Linked DNA regions of Homo sapiens. The protein of the gene in region 2 interacts with the protein of the main gene of each other region in a pairwise test. Each region holds a gene or a part of one and is shown on either strand. Other genes may lie near its edges.

Evidence for each region.
Region 1: the proteins of KRTAP1-3 (region 2) and AGA interact in binary tests that used the Homo sapiens proteins (3 or more experiments, as listed by UniProt).
Region 3: the proteins of KRTAP1-3 (region 2) and TFAP2D interact in binary tests that used the Homo sapiens proteins (3 or more experiments, as listed by UniProt).
Region 4: the proteins of KRTAP1-3 (region 2) and SUSD6 interact in binary tests that used the Homo sapiens proteins (3 or more experiments, as listed by UniProt).

What each region holds. Positions count from the first base shown.
Region 1 is NC_000004.12:177,439,148-177,447,063, reverse strand, and holds the start of AGA (N(4)-(beta-N-acetylglucosaminyl)-L-asparaginase isoform 1 preproprotein), read left to right. Parts: upstream 1-4,626; 5' UTR 4,627-4,688; coding exon 4,689-4,815; intron 4,816-6,637; coding exon 6,638-6,791; intron 6,792-7,375; coding exon 7,376-7,488; intron 7,489-7,916. UniProt on the Homo sapiens protein: Cleaves the GlcNAc-Asn bond which joins oligosaccharides to the peptide of asparagine-linked glycoproteins.
Region 2 is NC_000017.11:41,032,762-41,039,256, reverse strand, and holds KRTAP1-3 (keratin-associated protein 1-3), read left to right. Parts: upstream 1-4,382; 5' UTR 4,383-4,435; coding exon 4,436-4,939; 3' UTR 4,940-5,373; downstream 5,374-6,495. UniProt on the Homo sapiens protein: In the hair cortex, hair keratin intermediate filaments are embedded in an interfilamentous matrix, consisting of hair keratin-associated proteins (KRTAP), which are essential for the formation of a rigid and resistant hair shaft through their extensive disulfide bond cross-linking with abundant cysteine residues of hair keratins.
Region 3 is NC_000006.12:50,723,040-50,730,661, forward strand, and holds part of TFAP2D (transcription factor AP-2-delta), read left to right. Parts: intron 1-5,816; coding exon 5,817-5,982; intron 5,983-6,154; coding exon 6,155-6,273; intron 6,274-7,622.
Region 4 is NC_000014.9:69,606,085-69,614,690, forward strand, and holds the start of SUSD6 (sushi domain-containing protein 6 precursor), read left to right. Parts: upstream 1-5,511; 5' UTR 5,512-5,744; intron 5,745-8,606. UniProt on the Homo sapiens protein: May play a role in growth-suppressive activity and cell death. May be involved in the production of chemokine molecules in umbilical vein endothelial cells (HUVECs) cultured in THP1 monocyte LPS-induced medium. Plays a role in preventing tumor onset.

The DNA.
Region 1 (7,916 bases), on a different chromosome or scaffold from region 2:
TAGATAACCTAGGTAATAGTTCAGTGGGGAGTTTTGAAAAAGAAATTATCATTTCAATGCCAAGTCAGGCTTACAGCTTTGAACAAGTAGCAAAACATGGACATGTTTCTCAAATGGATTTCACAGCATCAGTGCAAAAGCCGGAGGGGATGGCTTAGTTTTTTAAGCCTCAGAATTGAAATACCTAGACTCCCTGCAACTACAGCATTAAATCCTCTGTGGAACCACAGCTTCAAATGCTATCAGGAGGGACTCAACTCTTCATCCTTCTGAGACTGATAAATTGAAAGCCATGAAGTTTAGAGGAAATAAGAGAGCCTGCAGCGGTCTGAAACTCCTCCACCCACCTCCAACACACACACATACACAAACACAAACACACAAAGGCTCTATTTGCAACATCACTTAAGATTCCATTTGAGGCTTTCCCCTTGTTAAGACTTAAGGGTGTTGTTTTTAAGACATCCAGAAATCTCACAGTCCTGCCATGCACCATCTTTATAAGCATTCAAACCAAATTTCAGGCAGCTCCAAGTAAACTAAAAACATTATTTTTAATTCTCATTTAATATATTCAAGGAAATTCTAAGTGATTACTTTCAAATGCATTATAGGTATTGGGCCAACTCTTTATTCTTCCTGTGGAAATTTCTGTGTCTCAAATTGATCAAATTGATTTCTTTTTACTGCCTTGTATGTTTCTGGACTGCCTCCTTGACATCAATTATAGGTACTTGGGAATGGCAAATTAGAATAAGAGAATTTTATTTAATTTGCCTGGTATTACACCATTCTCCCACATCTCCTACCTCATTCACAAAGCTTTGTAAAATAAGAAAGAATACTATTATTATCTCCATTTTATAGATGAGAAAAGCATGGCTTAGGAAGCTTACATGAGTTAACCACAGCTGATACACAGTCACCTTTTTTTAATTTTTTTTTTAATAGAGACAGGAATCTCGCTATGTTGCCCAGGCTGGTCTCAAACTCTTGGGCTCAAGCCATCCACCCACCTCAGCCTCCCAAAGTGCCAGGATTATGGACATGAGCCACTAGGCCTGGCCACACCCTAAGTTTTAAAATCTAAGTCTGGAAAATCCTCCTGAAGTATTGCTAGTTATAAGTAAGCTCTACTTAGGAACAGAAACATTTTGCCAAACAAAATTGTGTAATGCATTCTAAATTTAAATAAAAATACTTTTACAAATAGTTCCTTTGATTTATCAGTAACACTAAATATCTCTGCCCTGTGTATAATGATTTAAAAGAATGAAAAATTGGAGAGGATGCTGGAAAAACTGAGGATCATTTATTTTACGGTCTACTACTGAAACAGGAAAAGTTCCCTTGTCGCCCTTGCAGGGCGTGTGATGGGGGTGTGGCTCGCTTCTTCAGTGTCCTGCTGCTCAAACCTCTATAGGGGCATACAGACGGGCAGATTGTGAGGCTCTGACCCCACAGCAGTGTCTAGGTGTGAATGTTTACAGCTGAAGCCCCAGTGGGCATGTGTTACAGGGTGCTCTTTTAGTTTAACCGTCTGTAGGCGGCTTGTGTTAGCTCAATTAGACCCCTGCCTTATCGCAAAGACAGAGGGCTTTCTGTATCCCGGGTTCTTACCTTGGTGTACGGGAAGAATTGGATCACACGTGGGCTTGAAGAATGAGTGGAAAGTTTTATTGAGTGGAAGTAGCTCTCGGCAGACGGGGGAACCAGAAGGGAGACGGTTTTCTCCTGGAGTCAGGTATGGCGGCCTGACTCTTCTCTGACCTCCCGCGACAAACTCTGCATTCTTCCGCTGGTCAATGGCCTGCCAGCATGCCGGTGTGCTCCTATGCTGGTGCGTTCCTTTCGACATCCAGCAGCCCCTGTATTCTCTGCCTATATGCTCCTCTCAATGTCCAGCTGCTTGTGCGTCTGCCTGCCAGGGTCTCGGGGGTTTTTAAAGGCACAGGATGAGGGCATGGCAGGCCAGGGTGGTCTTGGGAAATGCAACATCCGGGCAGGAAAACAAAAATGCCTGTCTTCACCTAGGTAGGCCCAGGCCCAGGGATGAAGCCCTAGCTGGGGACCACGCCCTCCTCTACCCAGCACTTCCCGCCCCCCTTCCTTATCATTTAAAGGGACCACGCCCTTCCCTTCCCAGCATTCCCTTCCCAGCACTTTCCTGCGGCATCACTACCTGTTAACAGGTGTTCCTTTTCGTTTAGATTTACCTCAAAACAACGGCGAAGGATCTAATTATATTTAGGCCCAAAAGAGCACCTAAGTGAGAGTAACAGAAGGTTACTTCTAGAACTAAAATGAAAATTATTCTTCAAGTGTTAGTCAAAGGAAAACTACTCCAGAAGGAACCAAATATCCAGACGAATTTAACTTAAGAAACAGCTACAATTTAGGCAAACTGGACAGTGGATCCAGTAGGTATTTTAGTAGCCACTAAGAAGACACTGAATCGGGTAGATTCTATAGGGATTGCATATTAGTTATTTAAATACAAATATCCGGCTGGGCACGGTGGCTCACACCTGTAATCCCAGCATTTTGGGAGGTCGGGGGGGTGGGGGCGGTGGGTGGATCACCTGTGTCAGGAGTTCAAGACCAACCTGGCCAAAATGGCAAAACCTGTCTCTACTTAAAATACAAAAATTAGCCGGGCATGGTAGTAGGCAGTAGCAATCCCAGCTACTCAGGAGGCTGGGGCAAGAGAATCGCTTGAATGCAGGAGGTGGAGGTTGCAGTGAGCTGAGATTACACCAGTGAACTCCAGCCTGGGCGATAGAGCAAGACTCCATCTCAAAAAATAAATACATACATACATACATACATACAAATATCCATGGAAAAGTTGATATATTGAGACCTTCTATCAGCCATTCCCACTATAGTGTAATTTAGCTGTTTCTCTGACAGGAATTTTTATTTAAGAAGAAAGAATTTGGAGAAATAGACATAGTAGGAGGTAACAGATCAGGCTCTTTCCACCAGAAGAAACACAAATACCTTAAAAAACAGGAAGAGGCTAGAGAGATCAGTGGGGTACTAAGACCAATTTTCCATGTATTGTATTTTACAATTTTTGCTAAAGGCATGTCCTAATTCCTTAAGGCTGCATAAAAATACTCAGCCCAGGAGCTAAGGAAAATTTACTCAGAGGACAATGTATGTTTTTCTGGCTTTCTTACCCTGTTTCACCCAAGTTTCCAGTTTCACCTGCCATTGGGTTATGATTACTCCAGCACAGATGACTTGTTCCTCTTCCAAACCCCATGAAAGGAACTTAGAAAATTTGTCTTTATTATATCTTTTAATTAACACTTCCCCAACGGGATAATGATACTTCTGGGCTATCTTATGTTCTTTAAATTATGTATTTAATTTCCTAGCAATCAATAAGAGCCTTGAAGGTTTTGTAAGTCTCACAACTCCTACCTAGTTTATATTTTTACATTTATTTATTTATTTATTTTTGAGACAGAATCTCACTCTGTTGTCCAGGCTGGAGTGAAGTGGTGCGATCTCGGCTCACCACAATCTCCACCTCCCGGCTTCAAGCAATTCTGCCTCAGCCTCCCAAGTAGTTGGGACTACAGGCATGCACCACCACGCCCGGCTAATTTTTGTATTTTTAGTAGAGACGGGTTTCACTATGTTGGCCAGGCTGGTCTCGAACTCCTGACCTCGTGATCCACCCACCTCAGCATCCCAAAGTGTTGGGATTACAGGCGTGAGCCATCGTGCCCAGCCTAGTTCATATTTTTAAAGTTTGTATAGATTTATAGATGCTTTTAAAAATTATGTGATTATGTGTCTTGCCTTGGCAACCTGGGCAGGCATTCCAGACACCCAAAGGGATTATTAGTTCATGTTCGCACGTCTGCCCAGCAACAAAACTGAGCAGCCTCCACCAAGCACGTAAAATCCCCATTCCTCCTCTTATTCATTTATTTAGCACTTAATAGTGCCAGGCAGGAAGGTAAAAATACATTTAAAAAGGAATGGAGGTAGCCGTCTTGCCCTGGAGGTGCAGGAAGCTGCACTTCAGTGTGCTAGGTAGAGGGTACATAGGCCGTTTCTGTTTTTCTTCCAGCTCAGGGATTTATAATGAGAGGAAGTGCTACAAAAAGCTGTGGTGCGAAAATGACGGACGCTATGAATGGAAAAAAAATCTAAAATCAATCCGGTCCTAAGCAAACACGCTTCACCTACACTCATAACTATTGCAGACCTCCGAGGCCTGGGATCCCCAAGAATATACTGAGTTTGACAAACTTTTCAACTTCAACTTTAAATTAAAAAGACAGTAAAAGAACCAAATCCATAGTACACAGCAATCGGCTAAAGTTCCTGGGGCCCTGCAACCCAGAGTTGAATAATTTTGTATTAAATTCCCAATATCAAGCTAAATCTATTTTAACCACAGGAAAAGCAGCAACTTGTCTGGCTATTTTAAAAATCTGAACAGCACTTAGGAAGAAGCACCTTAGCGCAGGGAACAGCTCAGTGCCCCGTGACACAACTCTCCCGCGGGCCCAGGGACGCCTCGTCTCGCGAGAGTTGAGGGACGCCTGAGCGAACCCCCGAGAGAGCGGGCGTGGGCGCCAGGCGGGCGGGGCACTGGGGATTAATTGTTCGGCGATCGCTGGCTGCCGGGACTTTTCTCGCGCTGGTCTCTTCGGTGGTCAGGGATGGCGCGGAAGTCGAACTTGCCTGTGCTTCTCGTGCCGTTTCTGCTCTGCCAGGCCCTAGTGCGCTGCTCCAGCCCTCTGCCCCTGGTCGTCAACACTTGGCCCTTTAAGAATGCAACCGAAGCAGGTGCGGGTTGGCGGCCTGGGCGGGCGGCTGCGCCGCGAGAGCTTGCGGGTGGGGATGACTAGCCCGCCCCGCTGCAGTCACCCGGCAGGGCGGACGGAAGAGCGCCGGGCTGGGCCGGGCCTCGCGGTCCCGCCCTCTAGGTCTTCCCGAGTCTCCAGCGCCGCTCAGTCTCTTGCAAGTGGCCTTTACTGCATCCTCCCCACCTACCGCTGTTGCATTTTAGGTCCTCCCTTCATGCAGCCCCCAGCGCAATGTATTTTCCACCCTGCTGCTGACCATAGTTATGGCCTTTGTGCTTTAATCAAGTAGCAGCTACGCTTTTCTGCCTGACAGTCTTTTCACGGGCTGTGTACGTCTCCACCTCTCGTTTCTAATCCTTCACTTCTTTGCAATTTTGTAGACGACTAATAGTGTCCCAGCCATAGCCTACTCTTTTCCCATTTACTTTTTTTGCCACGTGTTGTCATACTTTACCTGCCACTTAGAATTCAAGGTTCCAACCTTTGCTGTACATTCACACTATCTGGGGAGCTTCTCAAAAATCATCCTGCCGGGGCCCACCTCCTGTGACTGTGATCTAACTGCTGGAATCAGGGCCACTGTTTTTCTTTAAAAAGCTCCCTAGGTGATTTCGATTTGCAGACAGGGTTGAGAACCACTAAGCTAAGGTATCACCTCTTCCAGGAAGCGTTCCCTGACTTAACTGCCCTCGTGTCCAGAATGAGTTAGGTTCCTGCCTTCTACACCTTGTTAATAGCCTTTACGTACCATTATCTTGGCATTTTCGCATTGTACTATGCTTGTTTCTTTCATTTGCTTAATGACCAGAAGAGTCATTTTCAGACCCCTCCTCCTCCATCTGAGGTTGCTAACGTATTAACTTTCTAGGGCAGAATTGGCTCCAGAATTTGGTGGCAGTGCATACGATTCAGAGAAAATGAAGAAGCAGGCTGTGAGAAAGATATTCCCAGCCATAATGAGACGAAAAGAAATTGCATCAGCCTGGGCGGGGGACAGTTCTGTGTTTAAGTTGCCTGTATTGAAAGAGGGAACTTGCGTAAATACACTTTCAAGCCTGTAGGTGCTGTAGTGTTTACCAACCAGAGCACCCACTCTTCAAGGAATTCTGTTGTTACCAGAAAAGAAATTGTCCATCAAAGACCCTTCCCCCCACACCCCCAAATGTATGGGATCCTGGCTCTGCTACTTACCAGCTGTGTGACCTTAAACTAACTGCCTGACCTGTGGCTCTGTTTACTTTTCTTTAAAATGAGGGTCGTGATTGTACAGTACCTACCACAGAAGCTGTTATGAAGACTCAATGAACTAATCCATATGAAGTCCACGTTGTAATTGTTTGCTGTTCAGTATTATTAAGACTTCCTGGGATAGGTGTTACCTCAATACACATATCAATTATGCATATTTTAATCTAATGATGCAGAAGAAATGTGTGAAGAAGGCTGCGGTTTAGTGGATTTTTTATTTAACTGCCTTTTAGTGGTTTCGATTGTACCTTTTAAAATAAAGGAGGGGATACTGATTTCGTTTCTCGCACACAGAAGAGATAGATATTAGTAAGTGAAAAAAAAAAAAACCTTCAGCTTGCACCAATAGCCAGTTTTTTGAGTTCTTCTGATAACTAGTTAAATAATTTTGACTCTTCACTGACTCCTTTGTAACACTTGATAAACTAATGTGTTAAAAAATCAGCTTAACTCAGTAAATGTGAAAAAGTTGTTAAATTGGAGTTGGTTTGTTGCATTTGGCATTGAAAAAAAAATATATATATAAACAAGCATTATTGGGATTTGATTAACAGCGTGGAGGGCATTAGCATCTGGAGGCTCTGCCCTGGATGCAGTGGAGAGCGGCTGTGCCATGTGTGAGAGAGAGCAGTGTGACGGCTCTGTAGGCTTTGGAGGAAGTCCTGATGAACTTGGAGAAACCACACTAGATGCCATGATCATGGATGGGTAAGAACACCGTTCAGGTCCTATTTATTATGTTGAGTTACATTTAGAGTTGTGGTCTTCTGAGAGCAAGATGAAAGAATGCATGAGTTTTGACACAGATCAAAACCCCTAGCTTATTATACTTGACCTTTCTAAACACAGTTTCCCTCTCAACTGAAAAAAAAAAATCAGAGTAATAGAAATATCACATGGAGAGATAGGTAGTCCCTTAGAACTGGGAGAATGCCAAGCTAAAAAACTATGTCTCTGACCTTATAAACAATCATTTATCTGCTGTCCACAAATGCTGTGGTTTGCCTGACCTGAAGCCTTCAGGCCCCTTTCAAAAGCCATATTTAAAATTAGCTTGGAGAAACTGAGAATTTTAGTGCTGTTGTGGTACATGGCAAGTTGATTTTCTATTTTTTTTCCTTAATTTTGTCTGATTGTGGGAATCTATATGAACTTCGTGGATGTGCTGTCACTTCTGTGTTAAGATGGTGGAGTTTAACCGCAAAACACTATTGATTGGAGAAAAGCAATGTTTTTAATCTATGAACCTCTGAAAACTCCTTAATTCCTAACTGCATTCTATTTTCTTGCAGCACTACTATGGATGTAGGAGCAGTAGGAGATCTCAGACGAATTAAAAATGCTATTGGTGTGGCACGGAAAGTACTGGAACATACAACACACACACTTTTAGTAGGAGAGTCAGGTATTTTTTTAACTACACTGAAATTTTTTCTAGTCTTTTGACTATAGTTTTCACTGAAAAATAGTACAAAATCATGGATAAAACCAGATCTAAGTTCAAATTCCAGCTGTTTTACTTAACATCTATTGAACTGGATAAGTAACTTTTAAATCTCTTTACTTCTTCATCTCTAAGAAGAAGGCAATGGAAGTTTTGAGACGGAGTTTCGCTCTTGTCACCCAGGCTGGAGTGCAATGGCGCGATCTCAGCTCCCGACAACCTCTGCCTCCTGGGTTCAAGTGATTCTCCTACCTCAGCCTTCCAAGTAGCTGGGATTACAGGCACGTGCCACCATGCCCAGCTAATTTTTATATTTTTAGTAGAGACGGGGTTTCACCATGTTGGCCAGGATGGTCTCAATCTCTTGACTTCGTGATCCACCCGCCTCA
Region 2 (6,495 bases):
TGGAGTGGAAAACATGCAGCTGGTATCTGCTGCAGAATTTATTTCCTTGCTTCTTGATGGGGAGAAATCCCCACACATTAGCCACAGAAATCTTCTGTGTTGATTGTTGTTGAGTGAGAGAGTAGAAAGAACATTTGAGTGTGTTTTTTTTTCCTTCTACCCAATAGCATAAGATGTAAAAATAGCTTATGCTATTGGGTAGAAGAACAAAAAGCTAAATCAAGACTCCTGAGTTCTAGTCCCAACTTTGTAACTAGCTATCCATGAATCCTTGAGCAAGTCCCTTCACTTGCCTGGGTACCTATTTCTAATTTGGGAAATGAGAGAATTGAGTCATTACTGACAACATCCCTTCCAGGCATAAGAGGGTAGATAATTTCCTAAACAGGCTACACACTGACCAGTAATAGCTTCAGATGCCCAAAGAGGAAAAAATATACAGTGGTCAAATTATGTTGTATGCTTTATCACCTTTTTGCAAGTTTATAAAGCCACACTGGAATATTAAAGGGACTGAGATGGCCTGCAATAAATAAAGCTCTACAACCAGTGGCCGGGCTCAGTGGCTCACACCTGTCATCCTAGCACTTCCGGAGGCTGAGGCAGGTGGATCACCTGAGGTCACAAGTTCGAGACCAGCATGACAAACATGGCAAAACCCCGTGTCTACTAAAAATACAAAAATTAGCCAGGCGTCATGGCGGGCACCTGTGGTCTTACAGGCTGAAGCAGGAGAATCACTTGAATCCAGGAGGTGGAGGTTGCGGTGAAACAAGATCGCGCCACTACACTACAGCCTGGGTGACAGAGTGAGAGTCCATCTCAAAAAAAAAAAAAAAGAAAAAGAAAAGAAAAAAAAAACAACTCTATAACCATCACTCCCAAACTAACTTAGCCAGAAAACTCTCTATTTTTATGTTACCTGTTAACACCCTGTAACACAAATACTCCTCAAAATATACTTTGAAAAATGATGAAAGGGAGTATCAACTGATGTTTTTATAATACCTGTATAATCTTCTTATGTATTGTGAAGCAGAAAATAAATGTTCACTGCAAGGATGGATTTAAATACTGTCACTGTTCTTATTCTAATTTTCAGAGAGAGTTCTAGATGAAGCAAGCATTAAATAAAAGACGCATAGTGAGGCTTTCATTCCAAGGGATAAAATCTTTTGTCATTAAATCAAAGTGGTGAGCCAGTGCCTGGGGGTAGAGGGGTATGGGAAGTGATTGCTTAAAGGTCATGGGGGTGTTCTTCTGCGATGATGGAAAAGTTTTTGAAGCTAGAGAGAGATGATGTTGCCCAATATTATAAATATACTATATGTCACTCAATTATACACTTTAAAATGGTTAATTGTAGGTTATGTGAATTTAACCTCCATTTTAAAAAATCAAAAGAACAGGACCTCTGCTAGCACAACTTTAAAAGAATTAGGAAAAGGCACCACTTTGGAGAAGATACAGACAGAGGAGTGCACAGTTTGTTGAGCCTCCAGCTTGATGTAAGAAATAATATGCTCCTTCCTCTGAGTGGACAGAGCCACACATCAGGGCGCGACCTGTACATCTATACACAATGGCCCTACAATGTAGTCAACATTTTATTCCCCTCATTTAGAGCTCTGTTGTCTCTGAGAGGGTTTAGGTTGGATGTACCTTTTAATTAAAAGGACTTTGGCTCAGAAGCACCCCAAAAAATCCTGGTTGGCATTCAGGAGGGAAGAGATAGATCTTGTGACTTGGCTTAGGATAAAAGTTGGTAGTAAGAGGAGGTCCTTGAAGTTTATGTGTTATCTGGTCTAGATTACTAGGATGGAAGCCCAGAGCAGAAGCACAGAAGCCCTACATAGGAATGTTGTATTCATTTGACTGGTACATCAATCATGTTTTATTTCTCGAGAATCTAAGTAAGGCAGTCACAACCGAATTAGAGAACTAGTAAAACGGAGATGAAGAAATTGGGAGAATCCCCAGAACTTGTAACTAGAAAACCAGAACCATGATATCTTAAAGAAAAATAATTTCAAACATTAGTGTCTGTGTTAAACCAAAGCCACGTTCAGGAATAACAGACAAACACATTCTTTCTTCTTATGGTACTGGAATGGTCTACAGCCCATCACTTAAATGAAGTAATGAATGCCAGAGGGAATCAGCACAGTAATAAGAAATGTGGTATATACACACAACGGAATACTATTGAGTCTATAAAAAGCAGGAAATTCGGTCACATATTACAACATACCTAAACTTGAAGGATATAATGTAAAGTGAAATAAAATAAATTTCATTTTCTTAATTTACTTAGAGGAGGTAAGGGAATGTTCAGATTAGTCTTCGTTCTGTGGCACAGGAGTCAAATTCTCAAGTAAGTGTCATACCTTAAATTTTGCATTGAGGAAGATGTTGAAAATAGTGCCACAGTAGAAAAGCCCAGAAAGGGAGAACTGATATGCAACGCCACTGTCTCCAGTGCTCTTATCAATAATGTATTTCAGGTCCTCAGATATCTGAGCCTTTTGCAAAAGGAGATACATCTGTTTAGTATCAAAGATTCTGCTAAATTTAGATCTGAATTAAATAGCTCCCGAGATTGTTGTCATGACACACCCACGTATTTCAAGCATCCAACATAAAAAATATTAGCTAATCAAAGAATCTGTGATGTAGCTTTGCTTAAGAAGAAGCAAGGAATTCACAAAGAATCATATCTTTTAAACCAAATTTGATGTGGGATTTGAAAATATGTCTTAATTCTGACTCAGAAAGAGTTATGATGTAAACTCAAAGCTGTCATTTCTAGAGAAGCAGAACTACCACTTGGTGTTCTGGTTCAAAATCCAAGAGTAGCATCGTAACTTGCATTTCTCAGTAATGAACCCATACTCCATGGAGGCCTGGTCACCTTTTATTGCATCTAAACAAAACCTTTATATTCACCGTCATCAGCTGTCTCATTCAAATTATATAAACTTTCCAGTTCACTGGATTAGTCTCTAATATCTATAATAAACTGCATACAGCCGATCTAACACTCTGTAGTAAATCACATACTCCAGTATTAATATGTTAAAAACTATAATTTTATGCAGTTAAAAAATCTAAATCTATAGAATATCCTAAGATAAAAGATGAGACAAAGTCACAAGAAGGTTAACTTTTTTAGCACTTAAGATTTTCTTGAACTGTGCTTATTATGCTGTTAATAAATAAATAAAATCTCTAGGAATGGCTGTAGTAAACTGTGTTATTACTTACCCTAAGCTCTCCCTTCCTTCCTTTTACTCTCAAAAAAGTCCGTAAGAAAGGAAGCAAATTTTTACGGCTTGCTTTCACCATTGGAATTTCCTTAGAATGACTTTTTACATAAAAAAAGAAGAAAGGAAAGAAAGAAAGGAGAAAGAAGAAAAAGAAAGAAAGAAAGAAAGAAAGAAAGAAAGAAAGAAAGAAAGGAAGGAAGGAAGGAAGGAAGGAAGGAAGGAAGGAAGGAAAGAAAGAAAGAAAGGAAAGAAAGAAAGAAAGAGAAAGAAGGAAAGAAAGAAAGAAAGAAAGAAAGAAAGAAAGAAAGAAAGAAAGAAGAAAGGAGGGAAGGAAGGAAGGAAGGGAGAAAGACAGAGAGAAAGAGAGAAAGAATTGACTATAGTGTTTAAAGAGTTTAGTCTGGAATCAGAGGTTGTGGATTCAAATTTCAGATTCACTAGATACTAGTGTGAACTAGGGTAAGTTACTTCAACCTGTTGTGGCTCAGTTTTCTCACATGGTTGATGGGAGTGGCAGTGATACCTAGCCCATAGATTGCCGTGAAAATTCAGCAAATTGATACATGCGAAGTACTCAGAACTATTTAGGCACATAATCAGTGATGGGAAAATGTTATCAATAGCAATTAATGCAAATCTCCCAGGCCCAAGAAAGCATCCCTTTCTGGCCAGCTGAATATAGTCTTGCTTCACAGTCAAAGGGAAGATAAGAAAGTTAGAGAAGGAGCCACAGTTAAAATTGGAGGGAATTAAACTGTCATGTGAGACCCAATCACCCAGTTGTAAGGGTCAACACTGAGTAATATTGACAATCCTTAAAGGTGAGGCATCAGTCAATTATTCCTTGACCATGAGGAAATTTTAAGAAACATGAGGAGTTAGGGATCATATTCCTAATTAATGCCAATGACTTCTTGACCATGGTAAAGAAGCCTAATTGCAGACCAAATACAATCAACTTTCAAAGGCTCTCAGTAGGTTCAACAAATAATTCAGGGAGAGGCCAATTATCATTCAGAGACAAATTATCCAACACAAATAAGCAAGAGACTTCTGGAATTATGTAAACAGTAGCTGGCCCAGGCTTATAAAAGGCCCAATGTGGCAGCCATCACCAAAACTCAGAAACTCCTCCAAGCAACCCAGACTTCATACCAGCTCCCAACACCATGACCTGCTGCCAGACCAGCTTCTGTGGATATCCCAGCTGCTCCACCAGTGGGACATGCGGCTCCAGCTGCTGCCAGCCAAGCTGCTGTGAGACCAGCTGCTGCCAGCCAAGCTGCTGCCAGACCAGCTTCTGCGGATTTCCTAGCTTCTCAACTAGTGGGACCTGCAGCTCCAGTTGCTGCCAGCCAAGCTGCTGTGAGACCAGCTGCTGCCAGCCAAGCTGCTGCCAGACCAGCTCCTGCGGAACTGGCTGTGGCATTGGTGGTGGCATTGGCTATGGCCAGGAGGGCAGCAGTGGAGCTGTGAGCACCCGTATCAGGTGGTGCCGCCCAGACTGCCGTGTGGAGGGTACCTGCCTGCCCCCCTGCTGTGTGGTGAGCTGCACACCCCCAACCTGCTGCCAGCTGCACCACGCCGAGGCCTCCTGCTGCCGCCCATCCTACTGTGGACAGTCCTGCTGCCGCCCAGTCTGCTGCTGCTACTCCTGTGAGCCCACCTGCTAAAAGCCAGTTTGCTGATTTTCAACTTGAAATTTCCACTTTCAGTTCCATTCATGAACGAATTATTTCTTCAAGCACTTATGGACAACGAACAAATTCTTCAACCTTTCTTTGTCTTTCTTATGGGGGTTACCAAATATTTTGGCCTCAGAATTATCTGATTCCTTTCAATTCCAGAAAGACCTTACTCTTCTCTCTGAGGACGCCAAAATACAAATTTGACCCAAGAAATGAAAAAGCCGATTTACCTTGAAACTGAGCCTTTGCAAGCATTGAAGCCCACGCTCTGAGTCTCAGCGCCGACGAGACCATGGAAGAGCCATCTGTCCTTCTCAGGACACTCACTTCCTGTATCCCACCGTCCTGCAAATTGCACCCCCTATGAAAGAGGAATAATATACCAAGGTCTAATAAATTTTAACTATTGGTGCAACAAACATATCTTTTTTTTTTCATTGAGTGTACTCAGGATGTATATTTCATAGAATGTCATATGAAAAACTTTAATCTGCTTTTGATATCCCTTCTCTTCTAATACCACATTAGGAAATTTGTTATCCAGAGGTCCAGTGGAGGTTAATGACCATAAAAACATAGAGTAAGTGTAGTTATTTAGGGCCTCAGAAATGGCAAAGGCTCTGTTACCATAACTTAACCTTACACAGTGCTTTCACAACCAGGAAGTTACAGAAATCAAAATCTCTGGCTGGGTACGGTGGCTCACACCTGTAATCCCAGCATTTTGGGAGGCCAAGGTAGACAGATCACGAGGTCGGGAGTTTGAGATCAGCTTGGCCAACATGGTGAAACCCCATCTCTACTAAAAAAAATAAATTGCATTTCTATATACTAACCATGAAAAATCTGTAAGGAAAATTTTAAAAACAATTCCATCAAAAGAATAAAATACTTATGGCCGGGCATGGTGGCTCATGCCTGTAATCCCAGCACTTTGGTAAGCTGAGGTGGGCAGATCACCTGAGGTTAGGAGCTCAAGTCCAGCCTGGCCAATATAGTGAAACCCTGTCTCTACTAAAAATACAAAAATTAGCCAGGCATGTTCGTGGATGCCTGTGGTCCCAGCTACTGGGGAGGCTGAGGCATGAGAATTGCTTGAACCCAGGAGGTGGAGGTTACAGTGAGCCAAGATTGTGCCACTTCACTCCAGCCTGGGTGACAGAGTGAGACTCCATTTCAAATAATAATAATAATAATAAAATAAAGAATAAAATACTTAGGAACAAACTTAGCCTTGGAGGGGAAAGACTCGTACACCAGAAACTACAAAATGTTACTGAAAGAAATTAAAGAAGACACAAATAAATGAAAAGACATCCTGAGATCATGGATTATAGGATTTAATATTGTTAAGATGTCAATACTACCCAGAGAATCTACAGATTTAACGCAATCCCTATAAAAATCCCAATGATGTTTTTGCAGAAATTTTAAAAAAATCCATCCTAAAATACATATGAAATTAGAAGGGGTCCTATATAGCCAAAACAATCTTAAAAAAGAACAAAGTTGGTCTCACATTTTCCTGTTTCAAAATTTAC
Region 3 (7,622 bases), on a different chromosome or scaffold from region 2:
AAACATTTTGGAGGAATTAATATGATCTGAACTCTGCACGTTTTAAGAGAGTTTGAGTTTGTCAGAGCGCTTAGAGGTGACTGGCACGCCAAGGCAAAGGCATTTACGCCGCGGTACAAACATTGTCAGATCTGATTTAATTTCTTTAAAAAAAAAATTCCTTGAAATGGAACCTTAGCTTCAATTGCTCAGTCTGCCCATAACAGAGTAGAAGGACCTGATCGCTTTTCCCTTTAGCCGGCCTCAAGGCCGGCAGCAGGCTGCTTGGCAGGAGGAAGCGATTTCCTCTGCTTCTCTGGGTTTCAGGAAGGCCCAGAGCCTTGGAATCCGGGATGGAGAAAGCCGTGGATTCTTTCAGCAGCTCCTGAAGGAGTACAATTGGAGGAGCGTGGGAAGCCTTGCTCTTCTTCCTTTGTCAGTACTCTTCGGATTCCAGATGGATTACCTGGAATCACTACTCTCGCTAGCCAAAACTCATCTCTATGGTTCATCCATTATGGGTGAAGATAGAGCCAGAGATACACCTCAAGCCTCGCCTGCCTCCTTAGTCCCCAGTGCAGATTCTGCAGGTTTGAAATTCAATCTCCTTTATATGAAATCTAAAACTCTTGTACCAAAGCATCCAGAAGCATGATTTGTTGGAAATCTTTGTGGGCGTTGGGGGTTGTAGAGGGAAAGAGGTAGCTTTCCCACAGCCTACAGCCTTTTCTCTAATTTCTTTAACTGCTTTGAAAATCAGCAGAAACCAAAACACTTTTTGCACTGGGGAATGGGGATTAATCTCCCCCCAACCCCCGCCATACACACACCCTAATATACACCATTACACACCTACCGCCACATTAAACCAGCGAGTCTCTTCACGCACACCTCTCTTTTGTTCTGCCTGGAATCTACAAAAGGAGAAGCTCATTCGGCCCTGGTAATCCAGCTATACCTGTAATGTTATACCCTCCCCCCAAACAATTCGCTCCTTACACATCATCAAAGGCCTACTTGATTCCAATTAAGTCCGCATCCTTTGCTGTTTGATTACAATTAATATCTGCTGCCGTGGGGGGAGAGGTAACATGGGGGGAGGGGTAACATGGGGGAGGAGGGTTAGGAAGGGTGAGAGGCTAGAGAGGAAGCAGCAGAGAATAATTCTCCCCACCCAACTCACAGGCGCACCTCGCAGAAATGCAACCGCAGAACAAACAGGGACAGGAAACTCTTGTAATCGCTTACACATTTTTAATGTGTCAGAAAAAAAAGAGCGATCACTGGAGATGAAGAAGGGGAGAAGAAAAATCCCTGCCGTTTGTATTTCTTTCATTTGAATTGTAAACATCTGTTTGGCTGTAAGGCGAACAGATCATTTATTTTGCTCTCAAGATTTGGTCTAATTATGTCAACACCGACGCTACGACGAGTGGGGCGGCGCTGTGGCTTTGGAGAGGATGCGCGCACCGGCCCAGCGCCCGGAAGCCCGCTAGGAAGTATTGATCGCACCTGGAGAGCGCGCGGGACCTCTCGCCACAGCTGGGTGCGTTCTGAGACGGGGGAGGCGCGGAGGCCGTGAGTATGGCTCAGAGGCAGATTTAGAGGCTCCAGGGACCCGCGGCTCCTTGGAGACAGCCGCCGCTGTTTCCTCTGCCCCAGTAGCCTGGGATGAGAAGAGAAAAAGCTCACCCAGGCTCCGGCGCTTGTCTTTCCCATCCAGTTGCAGCACAGACGGTGGCGGGGTGTGTGTGTGTGTGTGTCGGCGGGGGGACCTGTCTTGTCCTACCCCGCAGTTCACACCCTGCAACGGGGTAGTTGTTTTTTTAAAAAAAAGTGGCGGGGTTGGGTGGCCTATAATCAGGTTGCCGAGCGTGCGTGCATCCATTTCCCATTGCACCTCCTTACAAGGTGGGGAGATAAGTAGAGCAAGTGTGAGCATCTTCATTGTTTAGATGGACAGACTAGACCCAGAGTCATTCGCCCAAAGTTGCGTGAGTCGATAGTTGGTCAAATTCTTACTTGTAGCCCGGTACTCTTTCCACTGCCCCACACTGTCTGCAGACACTGGCCAGATGTCCCCTGTTATGCCAAGGCAGCCAAGGTAAAGCCACCCCATGCTTCTTCAAACCGAATAAGATCTAACAAGATATGGCAGCTGGAGGATCTGCATCCATGTATTTTGTGCTAGTTTTGTCACACCTGAGCCAGAAGTCTCTGGCTGACTTCTTCCTGTAGCTATGGCAAAGTTATCCCTTTTAATGAAAGCCATGTCCTAGGCAAAGGACCTTGAGCAGATAGTTTCTGATTTCTTACCACTGTTACCATAGCTACCCATCAGAATTTGCAGCATCACTGAAAATAGAGAGCCCTATCTCCAAATTCCAAATTTAAAAATAGTGAACTTTGTGAAAGTATTGCTTCTGTGAACTGTATATGGAAAAGGGATGAACTCTGGAGAAGTTCTGCATGAATACACTGGCTATAGAATCAAAGACATTCTTAATTGTGATGCTGAATCTAGAATGATTATCACATAATTTCAATATGAGCTGACATGCAACACAAGCACCATGAGGAAGTTCAAGTAGTAACACTGGGGATGACTACTGTAAATGGCTTGGTGTGGGCCAACGTTTCATAACATTCTTCTTTGAGATCTCATCATTACCATCTGTAGTCTGGATTATCTTAAAGAAGTATCACTCCCTCAGCACCTTCAATCTAAAGGCAAAACCCTGGTGATATTGACCTACTACTTTTTTCCACCTCTCTAAAGAATAAATCACCAAGAAGAAAGATATCAGGTTCCCCAAGTTGCTGTAAACTCTACAAGTTGCCAAATCTTTAGCCAGGACTAGAGAGTTCCCCAAGGTTGCAGCAATGCCAGGTATCAAAGCAACAGAAATTCCCTTTAAAGATGCTGTGACATAAAAAATAAAAGACTCTAGAGTTGATGGCTAATCCTGAATACAAAATAAATCCTTCAGGCAATTTGTGTGTGCATAAAGCATACTCTTAATATGCAGCTTGTGTAACTTACCTAATAAATGTCTACTTGAGCATAAGCCAGAAGCCCAACCTAGATGTAGGAGAGGGAGACTCTGGGCCCAGGGAGTTAGCACGTGGGTAGATAGCAGACTCAGTGGCTTCCCTGGGAGCAGCTGGCTTTCAACACATAAGGTTCACTTTGCCAAAAGTCTTCCAGTTGGGGAGAGCCTGATCTAACAACTTCTTTTAAAAATGATAATCATCTACATCTCCCTAAATTAGGTTTCTAATCCACTGAAGATTAGTAAAGATAAGAAAGTTCTAAAATTGTGGTATTCCCTACCCTTAGCATCCAGGAAAATAATTCATACATATACTCAAACGCTCTGTTCTCTCACTTATCATAAACTTGAAGCTAACTGGCAACTGTGTGAGATTCCTTGTGTCCTCATTTGTATACTGGCTAGTATGCAAGAGAGGAAAGTTTATGTCAGAATATCAATTTGCTTATGATTTATAGTGACTGTGAGTAGAGATCCATTTTTAGAAGAGGGCTATGTGAATTTTGCATAAAGACATTGATTTCTCTTTGTTTAATATATTTGGGGTAGACTTATCTAATTCCTAAAATAATCAGGATCAAAATTCTCACAGTATGACTCTACACCACAGATTCATTAATACCTACCTTGCTTTCCTGTTCATCTAAAATTTTAAGAAGTCATTTAAGATTTTTTTTTGAAATGCATTTTGCATCTCTAAGTACAGAGTGAAACCGATAACAAAAGTGAAATGGTAGTCTTAGGTCCAGGAATCTGGGGGAACATTTTTATTGTTGTATTTTGGCTTAAAACTCGGTGAGAATATGAAGAGGGGGAAGTACAGGAGAATTTGTTTTTAGCTCCTAAAGCAGGTGTTTACATGGTTTGCCATTGTATTGGCTACAAGTTTGATGTCAAGAAATGGATTTTAATTTGACGATTGAGATTTTGAACTCTCAGATTTCTAACTGCGAACAGGTTTTCAGACACTGTCATGGAGGTTTTGGCAGAGTGCACAGGACCTAACTTCTAGCCTGAAGATGGTTGGCTACCCTGACATTCCCACTGATTACTCTTCTGGTTTTTGTTGGTTTGTTGTTTTTTGGAGGGACTTTAGAATGCTTAGGGAGAAAGATCTTGGTCTCCAGCACTTGCAAGGAAAACTTGGGTGACCAAAAGACAGTCAGGAAGAATTCCAGAAGGTACAGGGGTAGAAATGTTTTAAGAGTGGGGCAAGGTTAACTTTTTCTGTCTCCTCAGGTTTGGGATCCCTTTGCCTTTTTAAATGTCCTCCCAGGTTCTTTTGCAACCCAGCCCAGGGAAAATACCAGAATCTGAATGCCAGAATTTCTACCACCGGTATAATATTCCATATGTGCTAGTTAAGGGTAGGAGATACCTGGGAGGCAAGTGGTAAGTCCTAGTTCAGTGCTTCTCAAACTTTAATGACCATGTGAATCATCTGAGGCTCTCATTAAAATGCAGATTCTGACTCAAAAAGTTTGGAGGTGGGTCTGAGATTTTATGCTTCTAACAAGTTACAAAGTAAAAATATTTTAGACAACACTCTTCTGCCCATTTTTCTTCTCCCATCTACTTTTTTAAAACCTCTTTTCTCTCATAGAACTTGTCCCTTTTCTGGATATGGGTTGTAAGATTGACCCTAGCTGAAGAAACAAAATACATGATCAAAAAAGCCAACTTTGAATTTGCCTCGGACCCTTAAAAACTCTGCCTTTAGATTGCTCAATGCATTAGGCGGTTTTGGATCCCGGAACTGTATAGTCACCATGCTAGCAGGGTGGACATTGGCTCCAAAGTCTTGCAGTGGGGGAGGAATTGGACAGTGGGAAATGCTTCTCAGAGATGATCACCTTTGGATCGTCAAGTCCTCTTCAGTTATTGTCGACTGCCTGAGGATAGGGAACATACACTGTTGTTCCTGGAGGAGATTGAAGCTCAGGGGGCTTTCTGGAGCTTGGAGACAGAAAGCTTCTGTTCCAGGAACCCCAGCATGGCAATATTGCCTTGGTGATTTTGCTACTGACAATTATCTTTGTTTTGCTCCCTAATAGTAATAATGACAATGACATTTACAATTTACATTTACAATGACAATTATAAAAACAATATTATTGTCAGCTAACATTTAATAAGTATTATGATTACTATGTTCTGGGTCTTGTGCTGATATTGAGGGCTGGCATACAATAGAGGTATTTAACCTATCATCACCTGTATGGATTAGAAATTTCTTTCAATGAGTAACTGGTTTTTAGCAGTGCCTGGGATTGAGTGACTGTTTTGCCTTTAATTGGCAGATGGATGAGGAAAAGATGGCAGTTTTCAAACACTTTGGAAAAGACAGTAATTGTGGATAAAACATTTCCATCCATTGTGTACATTGTGCATCTGTGTGTGTACATAAACATACAACCATGTATAAGTAATACCTAGTCTTTGTGAGCTTAACTATTGGAATTCAGGTTTTTGATTAATTGAAGTGTTTCTTAGTGTGGATGTTGCCAAAATTAGCACTGGTGAGTCAGTCTACACTCCGTAGGATGCCAATGTTTCTAACAATTGTACACTCACAGACATTTTCACAAACATTGAAAAGACATGACCCTGAGTAGTATTTGAAAGAACATTTAGAGCAGCTCCCTGCGATGATCTGGGGGATATATAAGTACAACTGTTAGCATGTATTCCCAAATCCAGAATAGTCTTTTGATGTTAACTGCCTCTCATGCAGTTAGCTTCTTTCACTGTCACTAACATGTTATATACTTTTTTTCTCCCAAGGTGGCACCTGTGTGGTCAACCCCACAGACTTATTTTGCTCTGTCCCTGGCCGTTTGTCCCTTCTTAGTTCTACTTCCAAATACAAGGTGACCATTGCTGAGGTAAAGAGGCGCCTCTCCCCACCTGAGTGCCTCAATGCTTCACTCTTGGGAGGCATTTTGAGAAGGTAAGACAAAGCTATATTCTGGCACAGAATTTCTGCTAACTGATACCATACCCTCAACCCTTAGTCATGATGTCTTCCATCTGATAGTGTATTCCCCATGTGGTCAAGTCGTCTCATAATTTTCATCAGAATGTGAAATTTCAAAACCTAGTTTTTGTTTGTTTTTGTACAGAGCAAAATCAAAGAATGGGGGCCGCTGCCTGAGAGAGAAATTGGATAGGCTTGGCTTAAACTTACCAGCAGGAAGACGGAAAGCAGCTAATGTCACCCTCCTTACTTCCTTGGTTGAAGGTATGACTTTTCAGTTTAGCAAAATAATGCTGGAAGGTTGGCGTGTCTTTGAAACTCAGGTTTCTTAAATTATGCTGTTTTATTTTTGTCTGTACCATTAAGCAAGTCAGTTAACAGTTAAGGTAAATTTCCTAAATTATCTTGACAATGATGATTAAATTAGACTTAAGATTTAGATAATTCATAAAATATCATTTAATTTACTAATCTTGGTAGTAATAGGAAATAAGACAATGGAGGTTTTGGGTACTTCTCCAAATAGCCTCTAAATAACAGCAACATGAAATTGGCAGCGCTCTTGTCATTTGCATTATTGTTTATTTCAGAGTTTAAGTGAATCTAACTTAACCCATTGTAATTCAGTACAACATGATCTACAGGAGAAATAACCCTTTATGAAGAGTTCACAGGGGTCTAGGCATGATACTGAGCCTGAAAGCATATTGTATTAATCCTAGTAGACCTCTCTAAAGACATGGTGAACTTTCAAGGCTGTATGGGTGGATAAGCTCAGCTCAGTCAGAGAGAGGTTAAGGTTAACCAGTAGTATAGAAAGAGAAATGGAAATGAATATATTCCCAGAAGTTGTTTTATTTCCAACTTACCTCTTTCCTTTTTTTCTCCTATTAAGGTCTAAACTTTACATATTCTTATTCAGTCTTCTTTTAAGGAGAGTTATTATTGAAAGGCTTTTTTTTTAACATTGTGGGGAACTTTTTGAATGTCAAAGGAAAGTTTTTTCATCATGTGGAATGCTATTGTTTAAAATATAAAAGGCAGGGGCCTTTTGCCAAGCCTCACCTTGAACACACCTGTGTTACTTCATACATCCATTATTTGTCTATATGGCACTGTAGGAAGTAGTGAATGAAGCACAAAACCAAACATCTATACTTTTTTTCAGATTTTCAATACGTAGCATTTATTGTACAACACTGAGAAGTAGTGTGTTCTTGACATTTGTCTTGGCAGAATTGCTTTGGTGATTTTGCTCTTAACAGCCATCTTTGCTGTGTTCCCTGATAGTAGTCACAATAATAACAACCACAACAATAACACTGACAACTGACATTTACTGTGTTACTATTACCATGTTCTAGGTCTTGTGTTGTGTTTGCCTGCGTGTGCTGGTACTAAAGGCTGGCATATGGTAGATGGCTTTAACCTATCATACACCCACATTGGGGAAGAGCAAAGTAGAAAAAAAAATGACTAATGGATTGATTCCAAAGGGAGACAGATTTCTGCACATTTTAAGTAAAAATGTGGGTTAAAATTATAGTTATCATTGTTTAAAAATATAACAAAACAGTTGCTCAGGATAATAGAGGGGATTCAAGAATCATATG
Region 4 (8,606 bases), on a different chromosome or scaffold from region 2:
TCATCAGGCTGGTTGGCACCAGGGGTGGGGGGGATCTGATATTCATTCATCTTCCACTGGGATACCATCTGGAGACATAGCAGGTGGATGCTCCCTTTCTACCTTGGCTTTTCCTTGTGTGAAAAATGGGGCCAACACTTTTACCAGTTAACCTGACCTGTATTAGGGAAAGAATGTTGTCAAAGACATGCTTCAGAAAAGCAGGTGGGGCTGGGTTGCCCTCTTATATGTATCTGCTAATTGGGCAGCCTCAAGTGCACATTTTCTAAGGCTAGGGTCAGAGTTGGGGTGGATAGGGAATCATAGCTGCTGCTGTGAATAGCCCAGATCTAAGCCCTGAACTCTGACCTCTACAAAGCTCCCTCCGACCAGTGGCCTGCAGGGATTGCGTCACCAAGCCTGGCTCTCACAGGCTCCTGACAAGCTGCAAGAAGGGTTGCCCCTGGTGATGGTGCAGGCTCACAAATTCAGATAACCTCCTGAGCCTAGATCTTCCTCCTCTGGAGTGGGAGTTGCTTCTCAGCTCCTGTTGGCCTAGCCCTGTACAGCCCACCCATTTTGGACTCTGACATTCTGCGGTGAGGGTGGCCTCACCTTCCACCTCCTCTGGGGTCAAATGGGTTTACCTTCACAGGGCTTTGAAAGCTGCCCAAGGAATCTTGAATCAAAACATGAAACTCATGCTAATTTCTATATGAGATCAGACAAGCTAGCAACCTTTCAGTGCCTCAACTTCCTTATAGGTAAAATTGGGGACAATAATGTCTCTTCGTTTTATGGGGATGTTGTAAAAAACTAGCTGGTATGCAAAAAAGCACTTTTTTAAAAAGCAAGAGATATATGAGGACAATTTCAATCTTTATTTGCTATTTTTATTAGGGGTGGGAGGAAGCACATGGTTTATTTGGGAAAGTGTGACCTTTGGAACAGACAAACAAGAATGAATTCTGCTTTTGCAACATACATACTTATGTGGTTTTGATATGTCAAAAAAAAAAATCTCTCTAAGCCTTGCTTGTAAAATGGTGTTAATGATAATTAACTTGGAGGACTGTTGCCAAAATTAGAGGTTACACGTATCAAGTCCCTACCAAGCACCTGACATACAGTAGGTGCTTTGTAAATAGTAGCTGTCATTACTACTATTGTATGTAATAACCATAGCAACTGAGATTCCATGTACTTATTCTGAACCTTTTCTCTCACTTTCAGAGAGCCAAACTCCTCTGTCCTGCCCTGCAAGCAGTAAAGGCACACACTCCTTGTTATATTCCTGGGAGATGAAAGGAATACTGTGCCTCCTGACTCTTATCATAGGAGTGACTACCTCATCCTGATTGGCCCAGGACTGTCCTAATTTTGGCACTGGAAGTCCCATGTGCCAGGAATCCCCTTAGTCCCAGGCAAACTGGGATGGCTGGCTATTCTACTCACCACCAACTGGGACTAATCTAACCCCCATGCCATATTCCAGCACCTAGATTTAGAGCAGAATATTAAGATTTGTGCTGGAAATTGGCCAGGTGTGGTGACTCACGCCTGTAATCCTAGCACTTTGGGAGGCAGAAGCAGGCTGATCACTGAGGTCAGGAGTTTGAGACCAGCCTGGCTAACGTGGTGAAACCCTGTCTCTACTAAAAATACAAAAATTAGCTGGGTGTGGGGGTACGCACCTATAGTCCCAGCTACTCGGGAGACTGAGACAGGAGAATCCCCTGAACCTGGGAGGCGGAGGTTGCAGTGAGCTCAGATCATGCCACTGCACTCCAGCCTGGGCGACAGAGCAAGACTCCGTCAAAAAAAAAAAAAAAAAAAAGATTTATGCTGGAAATCTGGAAGGACCCAGGAATATTAGCTCAAAGAGCCATCTTAAGTCCTTTTAGAATAAGGCAGGGTCTGAATTGAAAAGTGAAAATAAAAAATTAGCTCTGGTTTAAAATTGATTGTTAGGTGGAAGAAACAAAAAATCAATTATAAAGGCCACATATTTGTATGATTCTATTTATAGAGAGTGCTCAGAATAGGCAAATCTATAGAGACAGAAAGTAGATTGTTGGTTGCCTAGGGAGGGAGGCAGGGAAGGTGGTAGGGAGGGAGGAAATGGTAGTGACTGCTGATGGGTATGGGAGTTTTTTTTAGGGTCATGAAAATGTTCTAAAATATTGTACGACTCTGTAAATATACTAAAAACCATTGAATTGTTCACTCTAAATGTACAATTGTACATGTGCAAATTTGTACAATTTGTAAAGTTATACAAAATAAATACAAATTTAAACTGTGAATTGCTGGTATGTGAATATCTCAATAAAGCTGTTAATTAATTAATTAATTTATTTAAGACACAGTCTCACTCTGTCGCCCAGGCTGGAGTGCAGTGGCGCAATCTCAGCTCATTGCAGCCTCTGCCTCCCAGGTTCAAGCAATTCTTGTGACTAGCCTCCCACATAGCTGGGATTACAGGCGTGCACCACCACGCCAGGCTAATTTTTATATTTTTAGTAGAGACGAGGTTTTGCCATGTTGGCCAGGCTGGTCTTGAACTTCTGGCCTCAAATGATCAGCCTGCCTCAGCTTCCCAAAATGCTGGGGTTACAGGTGTGAGAAAGCTGTTAAATTAAAAAAAAATCTTAAAAATTTTAAAGAATTTTATTTAAAAAAATCTATGATCCCTCCCACTTGAGAATGTCTAAGTCTAAATTATTCTTAACCTTCATCTTGTGAGATCTTTTCAATGGCAGAAAGATAATATTCACCCCAGGCCAGGAAGTACCATTCCATTTTGCGGGTGAGAAGAGCAAGGCCTATACGTAGAATGTAACAGGGGCTTTTCGTCAGCTGTACTGAAGAGGCCAGTGGAACTTCAGATAGGAGGGGATGAGAAGACAGGAAAGGCTGGTGAGCTGACATTTATAAAGGGAGGAGACTTGACCCTGATTCTGGCAATTCAAAGCAGAAGGAAATGGAAGCTAATCCCAGCTGTAACCCAGCTACTCGGGAGACTGAGGCAGGAGAATCCCCTGAACCCGGGAGGCGGAGGTTGCAGTGAGCTCAGATCATGCCACTGCACTCCAGCCTGGGCGACAGAGCAAGACTCCGTCAAAATAAATAAATAAATAATTAAATATTTAAAATGTTTAAAAATTTTAATTTAATACTTTTCTGTGGCACTTTGGGGCTCAACCAAAGTGCCACAGAAAAGTAGAAGCAGCAGCCTTGGGAAGATTCTGAAGGGTAAGTAGAGAAGGCCTTCAAGATTGAGGAAACAGCATGGGCACCTGGTTTGTGACAGGAATGGCTTGTTAGAGACCAGCAGGTGGTATGGGGAGGCTGGAGTGGGGTGTGTGGAGGGATGGAGAGCATTTGGGCCGGACTGTGGACAGCACAGGATACTACAGTCCTTGCTGATGACTTTGAGTTCATTCTGTGGACCCTGAAGGTCTGGGAGAGGATTTTTTTTTTTTGAGACAGTCTCACTCTGTCACCCAGGCTGGAATGCAATGGCACGATCTCGGCTCACTGCAACCTCTGCTTCCTGAGTTCAAGCAATTCTCCTGCCTCAGGCTCCTGAATAGCTAGGATTACAGGCATGTGCCACCACGCCTGGCTAATTTTTGTATTTTTAGTAGAGAAGGGGTTTCGCCATGTTGTCCAGGCTGGTCTCAAACTCCTGACTTCGTGATCTGCCTGCCTTAGCCTCCCAAAGTGCTGGGATTACAGGCGTGAGCTACCGCGCCCGACTGAGGATTTTTGGGTAGTGATGGACAGATCTGCATAGGGTCTCACAAGGGATTTTATAAGGTGGCAGTTCTTGTATGAAGTTACTGAGCCTCTTAATGGCCAAACTGACTTCAGTGCACAGCCAGGGGCTCAGTTACTTTGGCAGTTGATCTGACCTGAACCATCCATGCCTGCTTTCTTCCCTTTCCTTTCTTTCTTTTTCTCCTTCCTCCATTCATCTTCTCCAATTCTTCCTCCATCCCTTTCCCTTGCTTCCTTCCCCCTTGTCCCCTCCCTGAGCCTTGGGTCTGCCTGGCATGTTCCTGCTGCCCACACTGATTTGGTTGTGCTCTGAGGCAGACCCAGGTAGTTCTGAATTGTGCTTTTCAATCTTCTAGTGGTCTGGGCAGTGTGGCCCCAAATGAGCAGGAAGGGAGGGGTGCCCATCTTCTCTAATGAGTCTGGACCCAAGAAGGCAAGGAAGAAAGAAGGCAGAACAAGGATAGACTTATGAAAAAGGCATTATAGCAACGAGCCACAGGTTGCTGTGGGGCCCAGAAGGGAAGGGTTCTTTTGGGGATGGGTCTGTGTGCATGGGGAGGAGCATCCTGTTTATTTGGTTCAAGCTACTTCACAAGGACATGCCCTGTTAATTCACAGTGCTTTTCCCGAAAGCCTACTAGAACTAGGCCTGGTGAGAGGCCCTGAGAAGGTGTATCCTTTTGTCCAAGAGCATCTGGGAGAAGAGGCCTGCCTGACCCAAGCTGCAGCAAAGACACAAGTCTGTAGGTCCAGATGTGGACTCTACCACTGATTTACAAGTAGGAGTTCCTTAACACTTATGGAGGACCTCTGAGACCGACACGGTGCAAGGCCCTGGGGTACAAAGATAAAAAGCCAGAGTCCTCCCCATCAAGGCGCCACGGGCCCTGTAAACACATAAACCGAGGACACACTGCATGAGAGATCACCAATAAACGATGTAGCCATACAGTGCACAAACTGCTCACTCAGTATGTGCTAGAAAATAGCCCCAGAAGGCAAGGCTCAAGAGGGGAAATACAGTTAGGAATGTGGCAGGCTTCTAGCCCGGGCTCTGCCAGTCCTGGCTCTGAACTGCGGTTTTCTCAACCTTGAGATCCCTTGTGTGCTTTTAGTATGCTGAAGGATCACTCACTTCAGAATGCTAGTGAAAATACAGATTCCCAAGTCCGACCCCACTGAATCACAATGGCTGGAGGTCATTCGGGGCCCCGAATCTGCATTTTCACCCCCACCCACCCCCCGGGCAGCTTTAATGTTGGCAGGCTAGGAACCACAGTTCGGATTACTGCTTAACAGGGAGATAATAACCTGCTTCAGACGAGCTAGGTCAGACGAGCAATTCAAGAGCTAACAAGGCAACATGCGCCAAAAGCCTTGTAAACCTCAGGGCAGTACAATTCTTTGCAAATAATAGTAATTCAATCATGCAAATAATAATAATAGTAAACGAACTGGAGAGCGCACTGGAAACGCCGCATAGTCCAGCTGAGTCGGTGCCACCGCCCCATCCACTCCAGCGCAGAGGGACTGTCTCTTTAAGGACCCCCCACCTCCCCAACCGCGTCGCTTCTCCCTTGGGTACCTGGCCCGGCCGGCGGCGCGTGCGTGCAGGGCCTCCCGGCGGGGCGGTCGCGGCGGCGCGACGCCGGCGCCGTTGCGTGCGCGCCTGGCCCTGCCCCTTTCCCGCCCCTTCCCCGCCCCCTCCCCTCCGCGGGGCCTCCCCCGCCCGCGCGGTACAGCTGGGTCAGTGACGCGGGCGCTGCAGCCGTCGCTACCGCCGCGTTCTATTCTCCGAAGCCGGCGACCGCCCCACCTCCTCCCTCCCTCCCGCCCGCTTCCTCTGCCCACAGCGCCGGCCAGAGCGAGCTAGACAAGGGCACGCGGGGCCTCGCCTAGACCCGAGAAGACTGCGGGCGCGCGCAAGCGGCGGCGTGGAAGCTGTGAGCGCCCCCATCCCGGAGGTCTCCGCCGGCTCCCGGGTGAGTTGTCACCGCGGCCCGGGGGCGGCGGGGCCGGCATTGTGCCATCGACGCGCTCGGCCGGCTGTCAGGGGCGCGGGACCAGCGCGCACCGCCCAGGAGTGACGCTGGCCGGAGCCCGGGCCGGCTTCGGCGGCTCCCCGCGCTTCTCTGCGCCGGCCCGCTGTCACCCGGCCGCGAGCCGCGCCGCTGGGAGCCCCGCGCTGGCGTGGCGCGGCCAGCCGGCCAGCAGTGGGGGCTGCGCGGCCGGGGGGACCGGCGGCTGGTTTGCGGCCGGGAACTTGGTGACCCGCGGTCCGGGGCGCGCCGTCCCGCGTCGCTGCCCGGGCAGCACCGGAAGAGCCAGACGCCGTGCCGATGGGTGCAGAGGAGGTAGGCAGAGGCCCTCTGTGCCACTGTCATTACTGCCCTCAGCCCAGCAAAGCTGCGGGGCTTGCGCTGGGGCAGGGCTGGCTTAGAGAAGGTGGATTTCCTGAGGAAATCTCAGAGCCCGCCTGTGCGCACCGCGGCATTCGGGAGCCCCCGCGCCTCGGCTGCTCTTTAATCTCAAAAACTTCTCTTATTAACCAGGCTAAACTCCCCGAAACCAGCTATTTTCTTTCAAAAAGTAGGCACGTACATACAGACTTTCCTTTTTTCGCTTGGTTTTGAGACCCCAGCTATGAGTGTGGATCTGACTCTCCCTCATGGGAGTCGTGGCTGGGGAGCTGCTGAAGTGGAGAAAAGTTACCCTGGACGAATTTAGGAGCAGGAGGGGGAGGTGGTTATGGGGACAGCAAGACCCAGGAGCAAAGAGGCGTCAAAATAAAGTCTTGGGCTGGTTAAAGGGAAGTTGGCGTCTGGGCAAGGAGGCCTAAAGCTGTTGTTCCCACAGAATTTTCTTTCAGTGGCAGGCGACATGCTGGGCTTTGTTGCTCTCGCTAACTGGGCTCCTGTGTGCTCTTCCAGAGGTGCAGTAAGATTACTCAGTTCAATTAGGCCTAGGGATTTACTCCCTTTTTTGATCTACAGAGATGGGAAGTATGTCTTTCCTTCACAGTAGTTAATTCATTTCTTGCTGTTTTCGTTCCTCTGGTGTAAAAACATACATAGGAGTTACGCACACACACCTTTTCTGTTTTGGGAATTCCACACCCAAACTGTCACCATCTAGTGGAGGCTAGTAGAGACATGTGCTTGGCACTGACTTCTGAGTTCTCTGGGTTTTGTGTTTTTAGCTAGAAGCATATTCAACCAGAAATTAAAATTTTCCTGGAGTTGGGGGAGGTATGTCTACATCTCAGGAAAGAAGGTATTTAAGCAGCAATAATATGGAAAGGTTCTTGAGGACTTACTGAGTACCAACCTTTGTGCTAAGGGCTTTACTTTTTTGAACTCATTTAATAACAGACTTTTGATGTAGATATTATTATCCCCATTCTTCTAGTTGAGACCCAAACCAAACAAGTTAAATAACTCGCCCATGTCACATAGGTATCTCATGGTGGAGCCCACAGTCTGAACTACTAGATTATACTGCTAGTTTCTGGTTTGTTTACCTTTTGATAAAATTGAACCTGGAGTCTTTCTAAAACCTTCTGAAAGCACTGCTGCTTCAGGCTGTTTCTCAGATCATGAGCATTCTAAACTCTTTCTCCTGGGTACACACTTACGGTATGTTTGCATAAGATTCATTTGTTCATTCTTTCATTCAGTACTCCCAAGTAGTTATGTGATACCGAATGTATGCCAGGCACTGTGCTAGGTATTGCAGGTACTGCATTGAATAAGTCAGAATCCAGCTCTCATGGACTCACAGCCTTTAAGTCCATTTGTTTTGGTTTATGTTGTTAGCTTTCATTGCTGGCCATTTGCTGCTGAAGGAACTTCTGCCCAGCGAGTTAAACAGAGGACAGTATTGGTATGAGTCCTGATAGATAGGACTTCCTGTCTGCAGAGTAATTTTTTGGATACTGTAGTAGAAATGGCATATGAAACAAATCCTCACTTACACCTAGATAGAGACAGGTGCCAGGGTGCTCAGTGTTTAAACCCTGAGAGCAAACCCACTGTCAAATGGGCAAGTTTGACTTCTTTCGCTGAAGCCTGCCTTCTGAAAGCCCAGAATTTGGTGAGATAGAAGAGAAAGAAGGGTAGAATGAGGTGTTACAGATACAGGCTGGCAGATAAAGAGACCTCAGCACTTTGTCTGTTTTCCTGGTCAGTCTCTGAGGTGTGGTGATTGAACTTGTGTTCTTTTTTATTTTTTATTTTTTTTGAGATGGAGTCTCGCTCTGTCACCCGGGCTGGAGTGCAGTGGCACGATCTCGGCTCACTGCAACCTTCACCTCCCAGGTTCAAACGATTCTCTGCCTCAGCCTCCTGAGCAGCTGGGACTACAGGTGCGTGTCATCACGCCTGGCTAATTTTTGTATTTTTAGTAGAGACTTGGTTTTACCATGTTGGCTAGGCTGGTCTCGAACGCCTGACCTCAGGTGATCTGCCCGTCTTGGCCTCCCAAAGTGTTGGGATTACGGGCGTGAGCCACCGTGCCCGGCCTGAACTTGTGTTCTTATGTAATGTTGCATCTCTCAGTAGGGGATGTCCTCCTTTGCTCTTTTGGTGGGGCAGCAATTCCTGCAGCAGCCTTCCCTCTACATGCACACACACACCCCTTCCAAAAGGTAATAATTCACCTGGTTTCTTTAAAGTTAGAACTTCTTTCAAGTTTATTGCTACTAAGCATTGTTTCACTCCCTCCACACTTGTCCATTTCCCACATAAAAACTTGGCTTTTGCTTCAAATATTTTCTTCTGCCCTTTTTTCATATCCTTAGCTCTTCTGACAACCAAGTTACTACTGGTATCATTTGTAGGCTGGGA